Homo sapiens: one gene and its partners. The protein of the gene in region 3 purifies or fractionates together with the protein of the main gene of each other region. This does not show direct contact. Each region holds a gene or a part of one and is shown on either strand. Other genes may lie near its edges.

Region 1 (4,807 bases), on a different chromosome or scaffold from region 3:
AGCTGTGCAGCAAACCCAACAGACTCCAGCTGAAAATGGAGCAAGGAGATAGAGGGATCTAGGATAAAAGGAAAATTCCATACAATAAATAGTGGGGTTGAGATTTAGGGATGGAGGGGAGAACGATAATATGAAAAATATAATGCAAGAAAAAGAGGGGAGAAGAAAAGCAACTAAAATCTCCGGGAAATACAAAACCTACACAATGAAGTAGTGATTCAAATATGGAACAACTAATCCAAATTAGAACAACTAGTCAAAATCAGAATCAGAAAACAGTGGGTTTCATGAAGATAAATGAAATGGGTTGTAAGCAATATAAAGAAAGATTGAGATGCTAATACCTTTTTTGAAAGGCTTAAGATTCTTCTCTCTAGTTTTTTTTTTAAGTACCAGAAACTCAAGGAAAAACAAAAAGTTATTTCAAAGTTATAATCCACATATGAAGCAAACTAAAATAGACACAATTTTGAGCAACTGGTGGCATTCAGGAAAGGGTTACCTATTTGAACATCTCTTGTGAGTAGCATGGGATCATGACACTGGAAATACAGGGAAGGAAACAGCTCTGCAGTGAACAATATTTCCCCACTCATAATAGTGCAAAATTCCCTATTCACAATAATGCAAAAACTCAATGTTAATTTTCAACAATTGGCATCAACCTGCAAATAGAGCATGGAAAACTTAATTTGATGACAGAATGGATAAAAATGTGATCAATCTTGACAGTGTCAAAGTAAAACTATAGCCAGCTCAAGTTGGGAGTCAGAAAGGAGAAGAGAATGGAGAGGAAAAAAAAGGTAGGGAATGGGTGGAGAACAGGTGATTACTACTTTTCATTATAAATCCTTTGGTTCCTCAGGCATTATTTTAAATAAAAATATTTTTAAATTTTTTTAGGAGAAAGTTGTTACCATTGGCTAATGCTACAAAGGGGTCAAGTGAGAAGGAGTTAGATTTGGCCTGTAAGATCATGGTGACAATGGAAAGGACCATTTCAGCGGCCTATAGGAATGGAAATCAGAGTACAGTGGGCTGAGGAATGAATGGGAAATAAAGACCTGAAGAGAACAATTCTACCTGCAGAATGCTAAGGACAGGAGAGGAGAGGAGAAAGGTTGCTAATAGAAGGGATTAAAAGTAAACAGAAGGTTGCTGCTGCTATTTTTATTTATATAGAAAAGACTTGGGCATAGTTTTTGATTGAGGTGAAAAGGTGATGAAATCCAGAAAACAGGATGAGGAATCAAACTTGGACAAAAGAAAGGGTATCTATCATTTCGAAATAAGAAGAAATGAGGTAGGGGTAGACTAGAGGAGGAGGCAAAAAACTGGCAGGATCACAGAGAGCTTCTGTCCTCTAAAGTGATCAAAGCAAGAGCTAGAAAAGCCTACAGAGCTGGCGATTTCAGAGAGCAGAACAAGAAAACCAACAAGGATTGATTATTGGGTAAATGGACTAAGCTGACAGACGAGTAGTATGGTTGAAAGCATATTTACATTTGAAAATCATTTTATTTTGCCTCATTTGTTGGTTGAATTATTCTTCATGAGAATCTTTTAAGGTAACCTGGTATCTGGATCTAAAAGACTATCTCGGGAGAACAATCAAGGAAAACAAAGTTTTGCTTATTTACACAAGGTCCTACAGCAAGTTACTATCAAGGTAGTAACAACAGTAAGACAGCTGTGTGCCATCTCATTCTGCTCATTTGAGACCCAAACACTTCTAAACAATAGCAACCTATTTCAATCAACCAGCATTTATTAAGATAACATATGCAAGTCTCACAATCCTGCAGAGGAAGTACAATGACCCCTACTTTACAGATATTGAATAAAGAGAGATTCAGTGTCTTGCCTAAAGTAACTGAGCCAAGATCCTAGCCCAAAGTTGTTAGATTCCAAAGCATATATGCCACGTGTAAAGCACATGCATTAAAACCAAATCTGAAGTGTGTTTTGGCCATTCTCAGTCCACTGCAAGTCCATTTGGAAAAAAATCAGATAGGAGAATTTTGAATACATGAAAATTAGCTGAGATTTAATTCAGTGATCCAAACCTGGGTGATCAATATTAAAATGTAAGTGCCAAAATCAGTGCTTTAAATTTTGGGAAAAATCTAATAGCATTCTCTTCATTATGAATTATGAATTAAGACCACTACACTCAGCATCCTAATTCTAAAACTATTCTTTCACCTGTGTTCTCTTTCTCTAATCAATCTAATTCATGGTAGGTTGCTATCTGGCCACTAACTATTACAAATAGAAAGCCATGTTTATGACAAATTTTATAAATGTACTTTGAGTAAGTAGATCTTTTTAAATATATACATGCAAATTAGCAAATAAACTGGTGACTTTAAACTGTGGATGCCTTAGCAAAATTCATCCGTGCTTTTTGCTTTTCTTTATTTCTGTTAATAACCTTCCCTGCTAAAGCAATTCTTCCTCTGGGCATTTATGCTGATGAAACAGTGGTATGTTACCCCATGCCAGCCTTGCCCTAAGTAACCTGAAGCCTGCAGATAGACTTTAATAAAATGAAAATATGTTTCTCCTCCAAAGATTGGATTTTAAATTAAGTTATATCCAAAGCCCTAATTTTAAGAATATAATATTTGATGGCTTCATTAAAAATAAAACAATAGCTAATGATGTTTTGAAGCCAACTGACCAGTTTTTAAAAGTCCTTGGAATAAAACTAAATCTGTGATGACTACAGATACACATGGGTCACTGCTAAGGTAGCCCCAGCTTGGGAACACTGGGATGTCAGGAAAAAATGCTAGTGAGCTTAAAGGGAAGTATTTATTGGGCAGTTTCCACTGCGTGTCCTGGATTACTGGCACATGATACAGTCCGGCTCTAGTGTAACCACCATTGTTTACAATACCCGAGGCAATTTGAAACTCCACGATTTCAACAATGGCATCAACTGACTAAAAAGTTTTGAGTAATGTAATCACAGTGATTTATCACTTCACACAAATGTGTTTCTAGCTCATAAACAGGCTACCCGTGACCCATTTTATCTCACACATAACTGAAATAATGAAGGTACAGCTTGGTAATGCTCTGTATTAAAAATTAGTAAGTTTTTAGTCTTGAAATAAAATTTTACATCCATCATCTCATTTAATCCTAAACCACTTTATTAGTCTACAATCATTGGCATTCTACTTATTCCTGTGCTTGGTAAGCCTTACTCATTGGTCTTATCCTTCTCTTTTTTGTGTGTTTTTTGTTGTTGTCTTTGTTTGCTGGAGTGCAGTGGCATGATTATAGCTCACTGCTGCCTCAATCTCCCAGGCTCAAGTGAGCCTCCTGTCTCAGCCTCACGAGTAGCTGGGACTACAAGTGTCTGCCACTATGCCCAGCTAATTTCCTTGTATTTTTGTAGAGACAGGGTCTTGTTATGCTGTCCATGCTGGTCTTGAACTCCTGAACGCAAACTATCTTCCCGCCTCAGCCTCCCAAAGTGCTAGAATTACAGGTGTGAGGCACCACACCTGGCCTGGTCTTAGCCTTGTCTTCAGTAATCTTTCTTTTATTACTGCTTATTCATGTACACCCTCTGATGCATCTTTTTGGCTAACATTTCTACGCTTTCCTTCTTTGGTAGCTCACCCACTTCTAGAGTTATGTTCACACTCTGTTTATTATTCTGATCTACACTTTGCACTATCCACTCTCATCTTGACCATTTCTATCTTATTGAAATCCAGATTTCACTTCTAAGATTACCTTTCTTCTATGTTACCCTAACATAATTGCTCTGTATTTTTACACATGAACTGCTTTGCCTTAGTTGTCTGTTAAAACCTTCTCTCTTTAAGAGTTACCAATAACATCAGTCTCATTCGAATCTTTGCTTCTGAAGTCTTAGCAATATACTTTATTATACCCAAACTTTTCATTTTCTGTAAGCTCCTACTTTCTGATTACTTGCTTGCCTCTTTTCTTTCCCATCTTTACCCTGGTTTTTAGCTGCTTAAATTGTCCCATTACATCCTGTTCTCCTTCAACCTTTCCACTTAAAAATTCTGATTTTTGAGAAATTTACCTAAATTGTATTTCCCTTTTCTTATATTTTCTAATTTATTTATTCACTGTATCACTGAGGAAACTGAAATTAAGTATAATTACTAATCTTGTCAACTACATAGTTTAGAACATACGCAAAAATGTAAAATAAAAGAAAAAAACAAATGTTGATTCTGCTTATCTAGTTTTAGCCTTATAATCCAAAGACCTTGCATCAAACTGAATCTTCTCTATGTATCATCAGTAGCACCTTTCAAAGTCCATGAAGTCAAAAAGTTTTATTAGGAGAAAAAAAGAAATAAGGTATATGTATAATCCATGGACATGTTAAAATTACACACTGCCCGAGAGTTTTCCCTCATAAAAGTAAACAACTCTTCCTTAAAAGGGAATTATAGGCTGGGTGCGGTAGGTCACTCACGCCTGTAATCCCAGCGCTTTGGGAGGCTGAATCTAGCCAACATGGCAAACCTCCATCTCTACCAAAAATACAAAAATTAGCTGGGTGTGCTGGTGTGTGCCTGTAATCCCAGCTACTCGAGAGGGTGAGGCATGAGAATCGCTTGAACCCCGGAGACAGGGGCTGCAGTGAGCCAAGATCGCGCCACTGCACTCCAGCCTGGGCAACAGAGCGAGACTCTGTCTCAAAAAAAAATAAATAAATAAAGATAATTATATATGTGTATAGCATACAAGTGGGTTTGCCCCCAAGTTAATGATTTGTTAGGGGCTTTATATGGCTAATAATTAAACC
Region 2 (4,807 bases), on a different chromosome or scaffold from region 3:
TTTACTTTATAAGTAAAAGAAATGAAATTCATCATTTAAAGTAGAAAAAAATCAGGTATCATTTTAAAACTTTGTAAGAAACATCAACATCACCAAAAAAAGCCCTATCAGTCACCAAATCTCATCCCCAGTCCTGTTTTATGAGCATAGATTACATAAAATATTTACAAATTAGCAGAAACAGTTCTAAGTAAAATGGTGGTTTGGTAGCATGTCACAAAGCAATGCATTCATAGCACAGCATGAATTAACACCTTGGTCCTCTAAATATATTCAAGGAAGAGAAAACTGGAAGGGAATAAGATACTTACCTGTGCAACATATGCAGAATCTGATATAAGGGAGAAACTGTCCATTTCTCCTCGGCTGATATAAGTTTGAAGTAAGATGTTTATTTTCCCATAACTATTCTCTACACCTCCAGGAGTGGAGAGTTCACAAAAATTGCTTAATAAGGTATCTAACTCCTCTATTTCCTCTTCTCTGACCTAGAAGAATCAATGTATTTATTGGAATTTTGGGGCTGATTTATTTAAATTTTTCACATTGAAATTAAATACATTGCATGTTTTTAAAGAGTTTCCATTTACTATAATGCAGCATTTTTCTTTCATAGAGTTAAATAACAATGATTTTTCCATAGGTAGCTAAAAAACTGCAATATGAAATGATCTTGAGGCTGATACAATTACATTTTATTATTCATCACCAATATTAAATTTGCCATTGACATATAAAAATTTGATATGCCAAAAAATTAAATCTTCTGACCTCACCATCCTTGAATTGATGAGATTTCATATTTTATTTGACCAGAGTAAAACCTCTGCCCAACTGGATTAGGGCAACTTGAATTATCTTCAAATGCATTCATTATAGTCATATATTTTTATATGGTATAATACATTCATAGCTTAAAGCCATGAAGTACTATGATTCAAAGTATTAAAGTTTTCACTGTTAATAAGATTAAATATTAATACAGGTACAGAAATACTCATATCTAAGGTTTGAATCATACAGGTACTTTTACATTTTCTTCAATGAGCCTTATATTGCAATAAACCAAAATCTTCATACTACATTCTTCAACAGTTTCATTACTGCAAAACCAATTTAAATTATTTGATGTGGAGTACAGAGAAAAGAATGATGTCAGGTATGATGTAATATTATAATCTAGGACAGTGGGTCTTATTGTTAAATGAAGAACATTGCTGATATTCCAAATGTGATGTGCCATACAGCTTATATGGTATTAATGAGAACCTTTTATAAATGAATGAATGCATACATGTTGTATGCATTTGATTCAAATTTCAAGAAATCTTACCTTAATTTGATCAAATTCTTCAGCTTTGGAGACTATGGCAAAGATATCACCTTCTGTTTTGTGAGCATCAAAGAGTTCATTAAAGGTCTACCAAAGTAAGTGTTATATTTGATTAAAATAAAAATATTTTAAATATTTTAAATTAAAAATGTGACTATAAATTACACATTTTAAAAGAAATTTGAGCCCTAGACAGTGCAGTTATAATGTCTGTGTTACAGTATTTAAAGTCACTGCTTTATAAACATCAACAAATTTATCAAAGACCAAAGAAAATTCCTAGAACATAATTAGCTAAGGAAGATCTTTAGCAGCAAAAAGATGGATGGTGAATAAAAGTTAATAACATCTACACTAGATACCTTTAAAAAGTTAATAAAATTCTGGTTTGTGCTTATTTTCAGCATGGCCATGTGGAAATCTGCACAATTCACGAATTCTAAGCTGATCATGTATCATAAAATTCAGAGATGTATATCTAGAAAATATGTAGTCTGAAAATTCTCAAAATATTACTAGTGAGGACATACAGAAAATTAGAAAACTGAGTTGAAAAAAATCAGTCAAAGGCCACATAGATTGAAGACAAATGCTAAAGAATGCCTAAAGTTCCTGCAAAAGAACAGCAAACAGGTTTAGGATATAGAGTGGTAGCAACACACTAGCAAGTGAACAAATTTAAAAAGTTACTTTGACAAAATGAGTGGATGTGAATAGGTGATGGAAGGAGTGAAAAGCCAGAGACAACGTGTTGGATTGATTTCAACCGGATCATAGTTCTGAGATAATATATGTTTAAAGGTTTTGAAGAAACCTAAAGTGCTATACAAATAGAAGGTTTATTTGGGGAAAGACGGGGGAAAGTTAGTAAGCACATGAGGTGTTTTCTGAAAACCGTTACATGTAAAAGCAAATGTGCCTTGACTATTTAGGCTTGGGTGTGTTTATTGCTTGGGATACACTCATTGAATAGGATGACAAGAGGTTCCTTAGTATCTGAAGTTTTATTTTTTTCTTGTCTTTACTGAGGGTATACTGTTGAATTCATATAAGTTAAATGGATTTTGTTCTATTATTTGCTTTCATTATTTTACATTAATAATATATTTTGAAGTCTAGAAAGTATTTGCATCTAAAATCAAACATATTTGCATTAGTATAATACCTCAATGGTGTTGTATTTAATATAGTAATGGCTGGCAGTTCTACCCAAATCAGTTGAGGAAAAATATCCAGTTCGCTCCTCAAAACGAATCATCTGAGCTTTGTCTAGTTTTCGTCCAACTTCAATGACCAACTGTTCTCGATGCTTTCTTAATGTTGGGTCAATCTATGGCAAAAAATATATAAACAGTTGAATAGTGCTTTAGAGAGTAACCATTTGCAAACATATATTTATTTATGGAAATTAAAACTTTTCTTAATGTTTTAGTTAGACTTTTTAATTACAATTTTTAAAGTACATTTTTCTACATTTAGGAAATAATTGAAAATATTTTATGCCATTAAATAAAGGAAGCTTAAAAATTCATTAAAATTATCAATGTGCATATTCTTTTCAGATACCAATATTTTGGAATCTAAAATTCTTATATGATCTTATGATCTTTAAAATCACAAAGATTAAAAATCAAATTTTAAAAACTCAATAATTGTCTTCTTTCTCCCATACTAAAGTAAATAGGGATTTTAAATTGTCAAATCATATTCCTACTTTATTATCAGTTATTTGGAGAAATGATAGCAAGAATGCTTTCCCTGTCAAAATCAAGATATATTTAGAACTGCAAAGTTATCCGGCCGGGCACAGTGGCTCACACCTGTAATCCCAGCACTTTGGGAGGCCAAGGTGGGCGGCTCACGAGGTCAGAAGTTTCAGAGCAGCCTGACAAACAAGGAGAAACCCCATCTCTACTAAAAATACAAAAATTAGCTGGGTATGGTGGTGCGCGCCTGTAATCCCAGCTACTCAGGCGGCTGAGGCAGGAGAATCACTTGAACCCAGGAGACAGAGGTTGCAGTGAGCCAAGATCATGCCACTGCACTCCAACCTGGGCGACAGAGCGAGGCTGGAGTGCAGTGGCGTGATCTTGGCTCACTTTACTTACTTTTTACTTTTATTATTATTATATGCAGATGGGAGAACCCATTCTAAAGTAAATAAAGTTGACAGTGAATTTTTGTATAGTTTTAAAACTATTACTTATCTAATACTTTTTCTAAGCAGAAATAATAAAACATAAGATATTAACAAATATTCTTGTTACTATAGTATTGTGTATAAATATATGTATGTACACATGCCAATTATTAAGGAACACTCTGTAGTCATGAGGAGTAAAGTGAAATATGACCTTTAATGGAGTAGGGGGAGTATTAAAACAATTTAGAAATCAATTAATGAGTTAACACTACTACCATTTGTTCTAACTTAGATATTTATGGCAGCTTATTTATGTACAAAATATAGCTAAAATAAATTTTAAAAATCAGGAAAATGGAGCAAAAGAATATCAACTGCAGGGAAGTAAGATGGAGTCAAGAGTTACATCAGCAAATACAAAAAGTCTTAAATGTTTGCTATGAGTGATAATATATGTATCAGGTTCAACTTATAAAACTATTTTATTAATCACCTATTACTAAACCATCAAAAATATGCTAAACTGTTTTATCTGTGTTAGTTCATAAGAGTTTTGTGGCCACAAATTTGTATTGAGTAATAACATTAAAACACACAAATCAAAAAAAAAAAAAAGGGTCAAGATTTTCTGACGTATAAAGGTACTATGTATCCAAAAGGTCTTTATACTGGAAAATGAAAGGCAAATGACTTTTGATTATAACCTAGTACTTTAAAGTCAATTGATGTATTTATCTTGTTCCAAAATTTGAGATGGCTTAGTCCGTAAAAATAAATTGTTTAGTTTTTGTTTTTCTTTACTCCTTCAAAACATTTTCATAGTGCCACTGGGTCTTCTCAAAATGCCCATATTTGTGATGGGAATAACTAGTGCCATATTCTTTAAATGTGTAAGGTTACAGGTTATAATGCAGTTATATGTTATAACAGAGCAATTTGGCTGTAAATGTAAACATTCATTTAAAGATTAGCACAAATTTCAACTGAGACAAAGAAAGGTAGGTGAGTCCCATCTAGAGTAAATCTAAGTATAAAAACCTAATAACGGCTTTAGATTTAACAGCCTCAGAACTAATTGCTGCTGCTGCTTTTCTTATTTTTCCTCCCGCAAGCCTTAAGTTTCAATTTTCCCATGGTAAAATCTACTGCATAGGGAAAGAAAAAAATAAAAGAAATAAAAATTTAAAAATTGGTAACTGCTTTGATAACACAATAGGATTCATATAAAAACTAAGTCATAGTAAATTAGGGGAAACTATAATTTTGAATAAAGTTCAACTTATACAAATTTTGACTTAATACTAGTTAATATCCATATGATCATTGTAGAA
Region 3 (4,807 bases):
CAAAGTGCTGGGATTACAGGCATGAACCACTGCACCTGGCATATTTTTTTTTTTTTTTTTTTGAGACGGAGCCTCACTCTGTTGCCCAGGCTGGGTGGAGTGCAGTAGCACGTTCTTGGCTCACTGCAGCCTCTGCCTCCCAGGTTCAAGTGAGTCTCCTGCCTCAGCCTCCCAAGTAGCTGGGATTACAGGCGCCTGCCACCATGCCCGGCTAATTTTGCATTTTTAGTAGAGATGGGGTTTCACCATGTTGGCCAGGCTGGTCTTGAACCTCTGACATCAAATGATCCACCCACCTCACCCTCCCAAAGTGCTGGGATTACAGGCGTGAGCCACCATACCTGGCACCCCTTGAACATTTTACCCAACTGTAAGACATGGAATCAAATTCTTGCAAAATGAAATATGACAAATTGATCTTTATATCCTTGTCCTGAAAGCAGCCCGTATCCCTTCCTTCAATTTCTAAGAATATGGTCCTCTTACTTATCTTAGGAGTGAGAAAAATACCTGCAGCTGTTACATCCAACAAAAAAAGGCATATTGGTTTACACGTCTACCTGCGAGACATTCCTGCAGTCCCGGAACAAGAACTCCAGGCCGTGAGGGTGGGTAGGTTCTACTGACTGACTGACATCGATCAACCAGACCTATTTCAATACAGAACATGAACTGATGTATTTACATTTTAAATTTTACTTACAGTAATTAAATCTGAATGTTAACAAAATGTGCTCCTCACCTTTCCAGCATGCCACAGCATGTTATACTCACTGAGGTCAGCATGGACAAGCGTACATTCATGATATAACTGCCGCATCAACTGTGAAGAGGGAAGGCACACATTAGGAAATGAATAATTAAGTGGTATTATTGATGATGACACCCCTGAAAGTTTTTTATTTTTTATTTTTTTGGAGACAGAGTCTCACTCTGTCGCCCAGGCTGGAGTGCAGTGGTGTGATCTCAGCTCACTGCAAGCTCCGCCTCCCTGGTTCACACCATTCTCCTGCCTCAGCCTCCCAAGTAGCTCGGACTACAGGCACCCACCACCACTCCTGGCTAATTTTTTGTAATTTTTTTTAGTAGAGATGGGGTTTCACCATGTTAGTTAGGATGGTCTCAATCTCCTGACCTCGTGACCTGCCCACCTCGGCCTCCCAGAGTGCTGGGATTACAGGCGTGAGCACTGCGCCCAGCCCCCCTCAAAGTCTTACAGTAGAAATCAACATTAATGCATTTGTTTTCCAGCCTTAATAGAATTAAATAGAAAAGTTTCATCACTATTTAATCTCTTCCCCAGCCACCCCACCTCCCAAAGAGGCCAGAAAAACATACTTGATTTTCCTTTCAATGTTTACCTTTGGAGGCAGAGAAAGGTGGATCACCTTTCTAGCTATATCTTTAAAAATTAATTTGGATTAAAATTTCCATATCTAGATCAATGGCTGCATTACATGACAGCTTCATGTGGAGATTGCATAAAGTAGCACATTAAGTTTCTCCAGTGTTCAATTAAAACACAGAGGGATAATGGCAGTATTAGGAGCATTGTCTCAACCTGGAAGGCCCTCAGATTGAATTCAGTTGCTATTTCAAAGCATGTAGTTTCCTTGAGATTCCCAACATGCCTTCCAACTTAACACCTGCACTCCCTACTGTTTTCAATTTTCATCATCACTCTCTTATGATGAGACCAGACCTGCTTCCTTTCCTTCACTGTTAAAGCTGTAACATTCAATGGCTGGGTGTGGTGGCTCACACCAGTAATCCCAGCACTTTGGGATGCTGAGGCAAGAGGATCACTTGAGCCCAGGAGTTCGAGACCAGCCTGGGCAACATAGTGAGACCCTGTCTCTTATTTGAAAAAAAAAAAAAAAAAAAAAAGCCCCAAAAAACTATAACATTCATGAAAGCTCACAAACTAATGAGGCACTTTGCTAAATGTACTAACAGCAAATTTTATTTAATGAAGTTTGGTGAAAAATAGCTTCATGCACTGTGTCACTAATCCTAACAATGACGACTTCCCTGGTTAAGTCTGTAAGTTTTCTAAAACTATTTAAGACACACACATATTGATAGAAAAACAACTCTTCAGTGTTAACATTCTTTCACAAACTTCAACTTGTCTTTGTTATAGCACCTTGAAATAGCACTATCTAAGGAACTTGGGTTTTTTTGTTTGTTTTTTAAGACATAGGGTCTTGCTCTATTTCTTGCCCAGGCTGGGGTGCAGTGGCACAATCATAGCTCACTGCTGCCTTAAATTCCTGGGTGCAAGTGATCCTCCCACCTTAGACTCCCGAGTAGCTGGGACTACAGGTGTGTGCCCAGCTAATTTTTAATTTTTTTTTTTTTTTTTTGAGACAGAGTCTTACTCTGTCACCCAGGCTGGAGTGCAGTGGTGCAATCTTGGTTCACTGCAACCTCTACCTCCCTGGTTCAAGCAATTCCCCTGCCTCAGCATCCCGAGTAGCTGGGATTACAGGCACACGCCCAGCTAATTTTTTTGTATTTTTAGTAGAGACAGGGTTTCACCATGTTGCCCAGGCTGGTCTCAAACTCCTGGGCTCAAGTGATCCTACTGCCTGAGCCTCCCAAAGTTCTAGATTACAAGTGTGAGCCAACATGCCTGGCTTCTTTAAGGAAATTTTTTTAAAGTTTAGAGGAAATATTTTTTAAAGGTAGTGTGTGAATTCTTTTAAAAGCACAACTTACATGAAGAGTTTGATAGTAGGCTTCTTTCATTTCTTCACTATTGAGCTTTACTTCTTTTAATTTAGGGGCTGGAACTTGATCATGGCCAATAAAAGACATAACTAAAATGTGTTTCTTCAGTAGTACAACTGTTGGACAAGGAATTCCAGCTCTCTGCATTCTATACATAAAGAAATGATTCAGAATATACAGATCAGAAGGAGAGAAAATATGTCATTTATTCAATAAATATCTAATCAGGGCCTGCAATGAGCTGGCACTATGTTCTACCCTGGTGATGTGGGAATACAAAGACAGTAAAACACAGCCTCTGCCCATAGAGAGCTCAGGGACTGATGGAAATGACAGACAAGAGACAATTACAATTACGCACTGGCAGAGGTATGGGTAGGAGCTACAGGAGCACACAGCACCAAGGATGGCTTATTAGAAGAAGAGGTAGGGAACAGGAATTAGCCAGATAAAGACAGTGCAAGGGAATGCAGGGAGGTGTTCAAGAGCACAGTCCATTTGGGGAATGTATATCAATCAACATAGCTGGATCTGTGAGTAGGAGGAAGGGCAATGTGGGCTGAGGCTACAAAGACAGGCAAGCTCCACTATGGAAAACTGTTGAAGAATTTTAAGAAAGGCAGGAATTTCAGGAGTACAGAAAAGAGACTGGAGGACAGCAAGACCTTCTAGAAAATGATTCTACCTGGAATTAATTAATTTATTGAAAAAACATTTTTTTTTCTTTTTGAGACAAGGTCTTGGGAGTCTAACGTTTCCAGGCTGGTTTTGAACTCCTAGGTTCAAGCAGTCCTCCCATCTCAGCCTCCCAAGTAGCTGGGAGTACACGTGCACACCATGCCTGGCTTATTTTGGTGGGGAACTCTCAGTAGAAGAATTTTGTAACTGATATATATGAATAATTACTTTTGAAAGCAAATATCTTTAGAAAATAACAAACTAAAATTAAGCTTTTAATAAATTAAGATAATAGAAAGGTTTTTAATGAGAAGGATTATTACTGAATTTCTTGGTTGACAAAACAAATTCTTTGATAGAAAATAAATTGCTTAGAAAATTCAGATACAAGTATAAAAATTAAAACAAAATGTAATTTGATTGGTAAGAACTTACTCCCACAAAATTAACAAATTAAATGCAACAAACATTTTCTGAAACAAAAAAGAAACCATTTTTTTATGCTAAGCCTAATTGGATGCTGGAAGTTTTACTTCGTGATAAAAGCAATTTAAAAATGGCATTTAGATATATGATAAAGTGTCTAAGGCAGAAAATGCCCAGATTTCCCTCAAGCTTCATTGAGGAAAGAAAAAAGAAAATGGCTTTTTCATCCTAAAAGTATGAATCGAGGTTATACACCTGGCCTTTCATTATTTCTATAAATGAATGTAAAAGAAAGCATGGATTTTTTTATCCTAATGCAAAAAGGTATTTACCCAAGATTACGTCTAGCACAATATTTTCTTTACCTTGCGAGATTGTGCATTTCTTTTTCTGCCCACATGCGGATGATCTTACGTGGATTTAGTTTACTGAAGCGATCTTTAAACCTGAAATCATCTTTAATATATTTGTCACGATTCTTAAATTCATTAAGGGTTGTTTTAAATACCTTGATGGCACATTCTGTAGGTATAACTTTACTATCTTCCTTTTCATCCTCCATGCTAAGTGGAAGAAAAAAAATCAAGTCAGTACAAGTTGCCAGCTCACAAGTACAACAATTTCAAAATAAAGATTCTGTAACACTAAATTAGATCTACCTTCTCTCAGTGTCAAGTCTTGTTTTTTTAAGCCTTTAGGTTTTGGATCTTAATAAAGCCTTAGGTTTTGGTTTGATTTTTTAAATAAAATATACTTTCAAATAAATTGTCAACCGATTTTCAACCATCTATCACATAATGTTCTTCACTTAATGACTACGGAATCAAGCTTGAAATACAATGAAGACATATGCACTTGAAAATAGGCTACAGTCTTCCCAATATGGTTCAGGAGCAAAATTCAATAAAAAGCAACAAATAAAACAGCTTTTTAAAAAATAACTCTTTCACTCCTAGCAGACATAAAGGTG
Region 4 (4,807 bases), on a different chromosome or scaffold from region 3:
CTGTCAGTCTGCGGGTGGAACCAGCAGCAGCGGAAGGTCTCCCCCAGGATGGGGTTGTACGGCTTCTTGATTCCCTGCAGACAACAGAGACTTGTGTGAGGAGCCAGGTGGGTAAGAGGTCCGCTGTGCAGAGCAGGTGAGGGATGTGGACGGAGGGGCAGCGTGGGTGGGCTACCCGCTGCCTGCTGGCCTGGTTTGCTGCTAGCATCTGGGAACAACACCTCACTTCTGCTTTGCGGGGACTATGCTTTGCCTGTGGTTTACATTCTTGGGGGACAGCCTCAGGGGAATCCTGTCCACTTCTTAGCTCGGAGAAGGGACACGAGACCCTGACCTTGTCACACTCTCCTTGGACCTTGGGTGTAACCTGCACACAGCCTGCTGAAAGCCATGGAAGGCACCAGGCAGTCAGAAGTCCTGCCTCTACCCCAAACCTGCTGTACGACTCAGGCCATCCTTTCACCTGAGCCTCAGTTTCCCCATCTGCACAATAAAGAAGTGGAACCACGGTCGTGGTTTTCAAACTTGCTTCCCATGGAACCCCAGGGCTCTGTGGTGGGGTCAGGGGAGCTGCGGGCCCTCTTGCTCACTACAACGAGAGCAGCCCTGCTGTCACTGGAGTCCTGGGTTTGGGGTTCTAAAAGGGGTTTCCATGGCTAAAAATTTATGAAAACCACAGATCCCAAAGGTACCTTGAGGTTTAAGGTTTAAAGCTCCTTTCTTTTGGCACCATCTGTAATACGGCCTGAGGCTGTTTTCTTGGGGGGTGGGGAAGGGGTCCAGCTTGGGGCCTTGAGGGATGAGACCACCCTTGGGGACCCGGCCTGAGCCATCCAGGGCCCCAACTGTGGGAAGTGGGGCCCTGTCCCCCATCACCAAGGACCTGGGCCCTCTGTGGGGGTGACCAGGATCCTTCTAAGCCATGTGGGGTAGGGGGTGGCCCGGGGACTCAGGGAAGTGCCAAGGGACGAGGGCTGAGCAGACAGACTCCTGGGCCGGAGCCCCACCCTCCCTGGCTGGCAGGGGCTCACCTTGGGCTTCTTGTAGAAGCCAGACAGGTACCACCGCAGCACCAGCTTCATGCGGCTGTAGGCATCCTCCTCCACCGCAGCCCTGCCATGGGGCAGGAGAACGCTGACCCCAGCTCCGGGGGCCGTGGGCCACCCTCCCTTTCCCTGACCCTTCCCTCCTACCATCCCGACCTCCAACCACTCAGCTGGAAACAGGCCACTTGGCCCAGGCGCTCTGGTCACCCCCAAGCAGGATAATTTTCTCTGGGGAAGTGGGTTCTTCTAATCAGAAAGTGCCAGGGCTGCTCCCACGCTGGGGCAGAGAGGACACTGCTGACCTGGGCTGCCAGGGTGCCCCTGTCTCCAGGAAGCCTCCCTGCCCATGCTCTTGTTCCCACCTGCTCCCTCTGCCTGGCTCCTGAGCCTGCAGCCCCCTTCCTGCCTCTGTTGCCCCCTTCCAGTCTCTGCAGCCCCCTTCCAGCCTGCGTACCCCCTTCCAGGCTCTGCTGCCCCTTCCTGCCTCTGCAACCCTCTTCCAGCTCTGCAGCCCCCTTCCAGCCTCTGCAGTCCCTTCCTGCCTCTGCAGCCCTCTTCCTGCCTGCGCAGCCCCCTTCCAGCCTCTGCAGCCCCTTTCCAGTCTGCGCAGCCCCCTTCCTGCCTCTGTAGCCCCATTCCTGCCTCTGCAGCCCCCTTCCTGCCTCTGCAGCCCATCCCATCCAGCTCGAGGGTGCAGGGCTCAGGGTGCATGGCAAGTGCTTGGGACTGACCCCCCTCTCACCACGGATGGCTGGCTCCTCCCAGGCCCATCTTGGAGACAGGGCCCCCTGGGAGGCTACAGCTGCAGAAACAGTGGGCTGAGATCAGCCATGGGATTCTCTGGAAGCCCCCACAGGGCAGGTAGGGGCTGGGGGTGCTGCAGGGTCTCATGCAGATGCAGGACGAGGTGTGGGGTGCCCCTCCCGGCATGGCGCGCACCTGGAGAGCAGGTCTGCGTGGTAGTAGTAGTCGGAGAGCTTGTTCAGGAAGGAGCGCGGCTCCAGTACGAACGTGGGTAGCACCACGCGGGACAGGTCCATGCCTGGCCGTAGCTGCTTCAGCAGGGTCCACATCAGACTCTTGTTCTCCTCTGACACTGTCTCCACCTGGGACGCCTCGCCCAGCTGCAGCAGACAGGCTGCAGTCAGGCCCTGCCCGGAAGAGCCGGGAGGAAGGGGTGGCGGGACAGTGGCAGCTCTGGCTGGAGGAGGCTGTACCTGCCACCCCTTAGGGTGTAAACCCCTGACCTGGCCTCCATGGCCTCATGAGGCTGACTCAGCCCCATCAGATGTGAACTCTTCCCAATGCGTCTCCACCCCACCCCTGGAGCACCCGCAGCCCAGGTCCAGGCCCGCTCCTGTCTCTGCTCCTTGCCCAGGGACCCCATGCCCTGCCCTCCTCAAAGTCCAGGGTGCAGCCTCCCAACACCTGCTGTTGAAACCTGTCTGTGCATCGTGGGACCCTGGGCCCAGGGAACAGAGAGACTGCAGCCCACCCTGTCTTCACAGCTGCCAGGGGAGGCAGGGATTTGGCCTGCTCTTCCATTTTTTAAAAAAGGTTATTGTAACATTTCTTTTTCTGTTTTTGAACCACTTTATTGAGGTCTGATTGATATACAGAAGCCTTCAGATATTGAATGTGGACAACTGGGTGAGTTTGGAGGTGAGCCTGCTCCTGCAAAACCGACACGGGCATGTGAACTCACCCCTCACTTCCGAAGCCTGTGTGCCCCTCACGAAGGCCCCCTCATCTCTTCCTTTTCTGAGACATCTAACCCTCACCACAGCTCCAGAATACATGACTTGGGGTGGCGGGGCTCCCCTTACTCACTCCAGACTTGCACCTCACCGCAGCCCCAGGGAACGGGGACCCTGGTCCTCCCCCTCCACAGAGGGGACAAGTGACTTGTCCAAGGTCACACGGCTGCTATGCGGCAGAGGTCAGATCTGAACTCAGGGCTCTCTGCATTTTTAGCCCAACGGCAGCTGCCCCAGGGAGCGGGCAAGATGGAGTGTGGCCTGTGAGTCCTGCATCAGGATCTCATCCCCGCTGCTGGGACTCCTCAGGCAAATGGCTTCGCCTCTCTGTGCACGCATGGCCACGGACAGATCCTGGTGGCACTGGCCCAGTGGACAGTGTGTGTGGACACCCAGGAGCCATGTCTGACCCCATGAGGGGTCATGGGGAGCCCAGTGCTGTAGCTTTGGGGCTTGGAAATCATGGGTAGCTTCGGCTGTCAGGAATCCTGCTCTGTCCATGTGCTCCCGTCCCGTCCTCCTTAACCCTCTCCACCAGGCTTCTGCCGTCTTCTCTACTGAGACTGTCTTGCCGTAGGTCCCCACCACTCCTCACTGGTCCAGCAGCCATCCCTGCTTCTCATCCTGCCCCACCTCTCGGACCAGCTGGCTCTGAGACACCTGGGCTCCTGGATCCTCCCACCTCCCTGCCCCACCTCTGTGAAGCCTTATCTGTGCTCGGCCTCTGAAGGTTGGGTGCCCGGGCCCCTTGGCTGCCCGCTCCATGCCCTCTGCCCGGAGCCCCAGGCTCGCACCTGCAGCAGCCCGCTCTGCCTGGCTCACAGCAGCGTCGCTCATCACCATCTGGCTGAGATCTACCCAATCCAACTTCCGAAATACCCTGAGTCTGCCCACTTCTCCCTTCTCCATCACAGCTGGGTCCAGGGTGTCCTCAGCTTTCTCCTAACAATGGGTCTTCCCTACGGGTGGCCCAGTGTCCACCCCCGCCCCTCGGCTGTCCCGAGGCCCTTGCCTAACCCGCCGGTGGCTTCCCCAATACTCTCAGCCTGAGGCCCCCAGGGCCCTCGGTCCACTCCCCATAGGCCCATCCTAACCTTCCCATCCCCGCACAGGAGCCTGAGCTCTGTGGGAACAGCAGCCCGCAGGGAGGCCATGGTGTTCCACTGAACACAAGGATTTCACGGACCACGGAGGAGCCCCCTCTGTCCCTGTGCAGAGCAAGATGCGAACACGACGCTGTCCAAACAACAGCAAGGAACGAATTCCCCTTTCCTGCTGAAACCGGGACTGCCCCTTGCCCTCAGTGACAGCCACGGCCTTGCTCTTGTCTCGCCTCCCGGGTGAGAATGACAAGATCCCAGATCACAGAGCCCCCCGTTCCTGACAGCCCCCACCCCAGAGCGCAGCCCCCACCCCAGAGCCCGGCTTCCTCAGCCTGCACCCGTCACCCAGCGGAAGCTTAGATCCTGTGATTCCTTCCGGACTCCCCTTCCTGAGGCGCCCCACGGTGCCCAGGGCCACGTGAGTTCTCTCCAGCTGCGGGGAGTCAGCTGCCCTGGCTGTTCATCTGCAGGCATGCTCTGGGGACACTGCTGCCCACCGCCTGCTGCCTCCCTTGAGCTCGTGCGCTGGTGGTCCTTCTTCTTGGAACGCCATCCTCCCTCCCGTCACTCACGTCTTCAGAAAGAGCCCATGGCCCGGTTTGCCTCCCTCACCTGCTCCCCAGCCTCCTCTTGTGTTTGTGGGTTTATCATCTATGTTTCCTGCTGCCCATACACTGGGGGCCCAGAGCCCAGGTCTGTCTCATTCATGGCTCTCCCAGGGCCCCAGGAGAGCACCAGGTGTGCAGGTGCCTGTGAGCATGGGACTCAGGTCCACACGCCCTCCTCTGCGCTCCTCCAGGAAGTGGGGCCGCCCAGCAGATGGGGTCAAGGGCCCCTCTTGAGCCTCCTGTTCTCCCATCAGCGCATTCCAGCCCAAGGAGGGAGTTGCCTGTCTGCAGCA

What was found. Proteins that work in one complex are often made in the same cells at the same time.
Region 1: the proteins of RIOK3 (region 3) and ZMAT3 purify together in Homo sapiens (affinity purification with mass spectrometry; one large-scale study listed by BioGRID and IntAct). This does not show direct contact.
Region 2: the proteins of RIOK3 (region 3) and ASCC3 purify together in Homo sapiens (affinity purification with mass spectrometry; one large-scale study listed by BioGRID and IntAct). This does not show direct contact.
Region 4: the proteins of RIOK3 (region 3) and OSBPL5 purify together in Homo sapiens (affinity purification with mass spectrometry; one large-scale study listed by BioGRID and IntAct). This does not show direct contact.

What each region holds. Positions count from the first base shown.
Region 1 is NC_000003.12:179,061,207-179,066,013, forward strand, and holds part of ZMAT3 (zinc finger matrin-type protein 3), read right to left. Parts: intron 1-4,807. UniProt on the Homo sapiens protein: Acts as a bona fide target gene of p53/TP53. May play a role in the TP53-dependent growth regulatory pathway. May contribute to TP53-mediated apoptosis by regulation of TP53 expression and translocation to the nucleus and nucleolus.
Region 2 is NC_000006.12:100,650,227-100,655,033, forward strand, and holds part of ASCC3 (activating signal cointegrator 1 complex subunit 3), read right to left. Parts: intron 2,664-4,807; coding exon 2,499-2,663; intron 1,421-2,498; coding exon 1,334-1,420; intron 489-1,333; coding exon 312-488; intron 1-311. UniProt on the Homo sapiens protein: ATPase involved both in DNA repair and rescue of stalled ribosomes. 3'-5' DNA helicase involved in repair of alkylated DNA: promotes DNA unwinding to generate single-stranded substrate needed for ALKBH3, enabling ALKBH3 to process alkylated N3-methylcytosine (3mC) within double-stranded regions.
Region 3 is NC_000018.10:23,473,022-23,477,828, reverse strand, and holds part of RIOK3 (serine/threonine-protein kinase RIO3), read right to left. Parts: intron 4,401-4,807; coding exon 4,203-4,400; intron 2,882-4,202; coding exon 2,722-2,881; intron 824-2,721; coding exon 743-823; intron 673-742; exon of another isoform or gene 651-672; coding exon 561-650; intron 1-560.
Region 4 is NC_000011.10:3,102,208-3,107,014, forward strand, and holds part of OSBPL5 (oxysterol-binding protein-related protein 5), read right to left. Parts: intron 2,171-4,807; coding exon 1,986-2,170; intron 1,114-1,985; coding exon 1,032-1,113; intron 75-1,031; coding exon 1-74. UniProt on the Homo sapiens protein: Lipid transporter involved in lipid countertransport between the endoplasmic reticulum and the plasma membrane: specifically exchanges phosphatidylserine with phosphatidylinositol 4-phosphate (PI4P), delivering phosphatidylserine to the plasma membrane in exchange for PI4P, which is degraded by the SAC1/SACM1L phosphatase in the endoplasmic reticulum.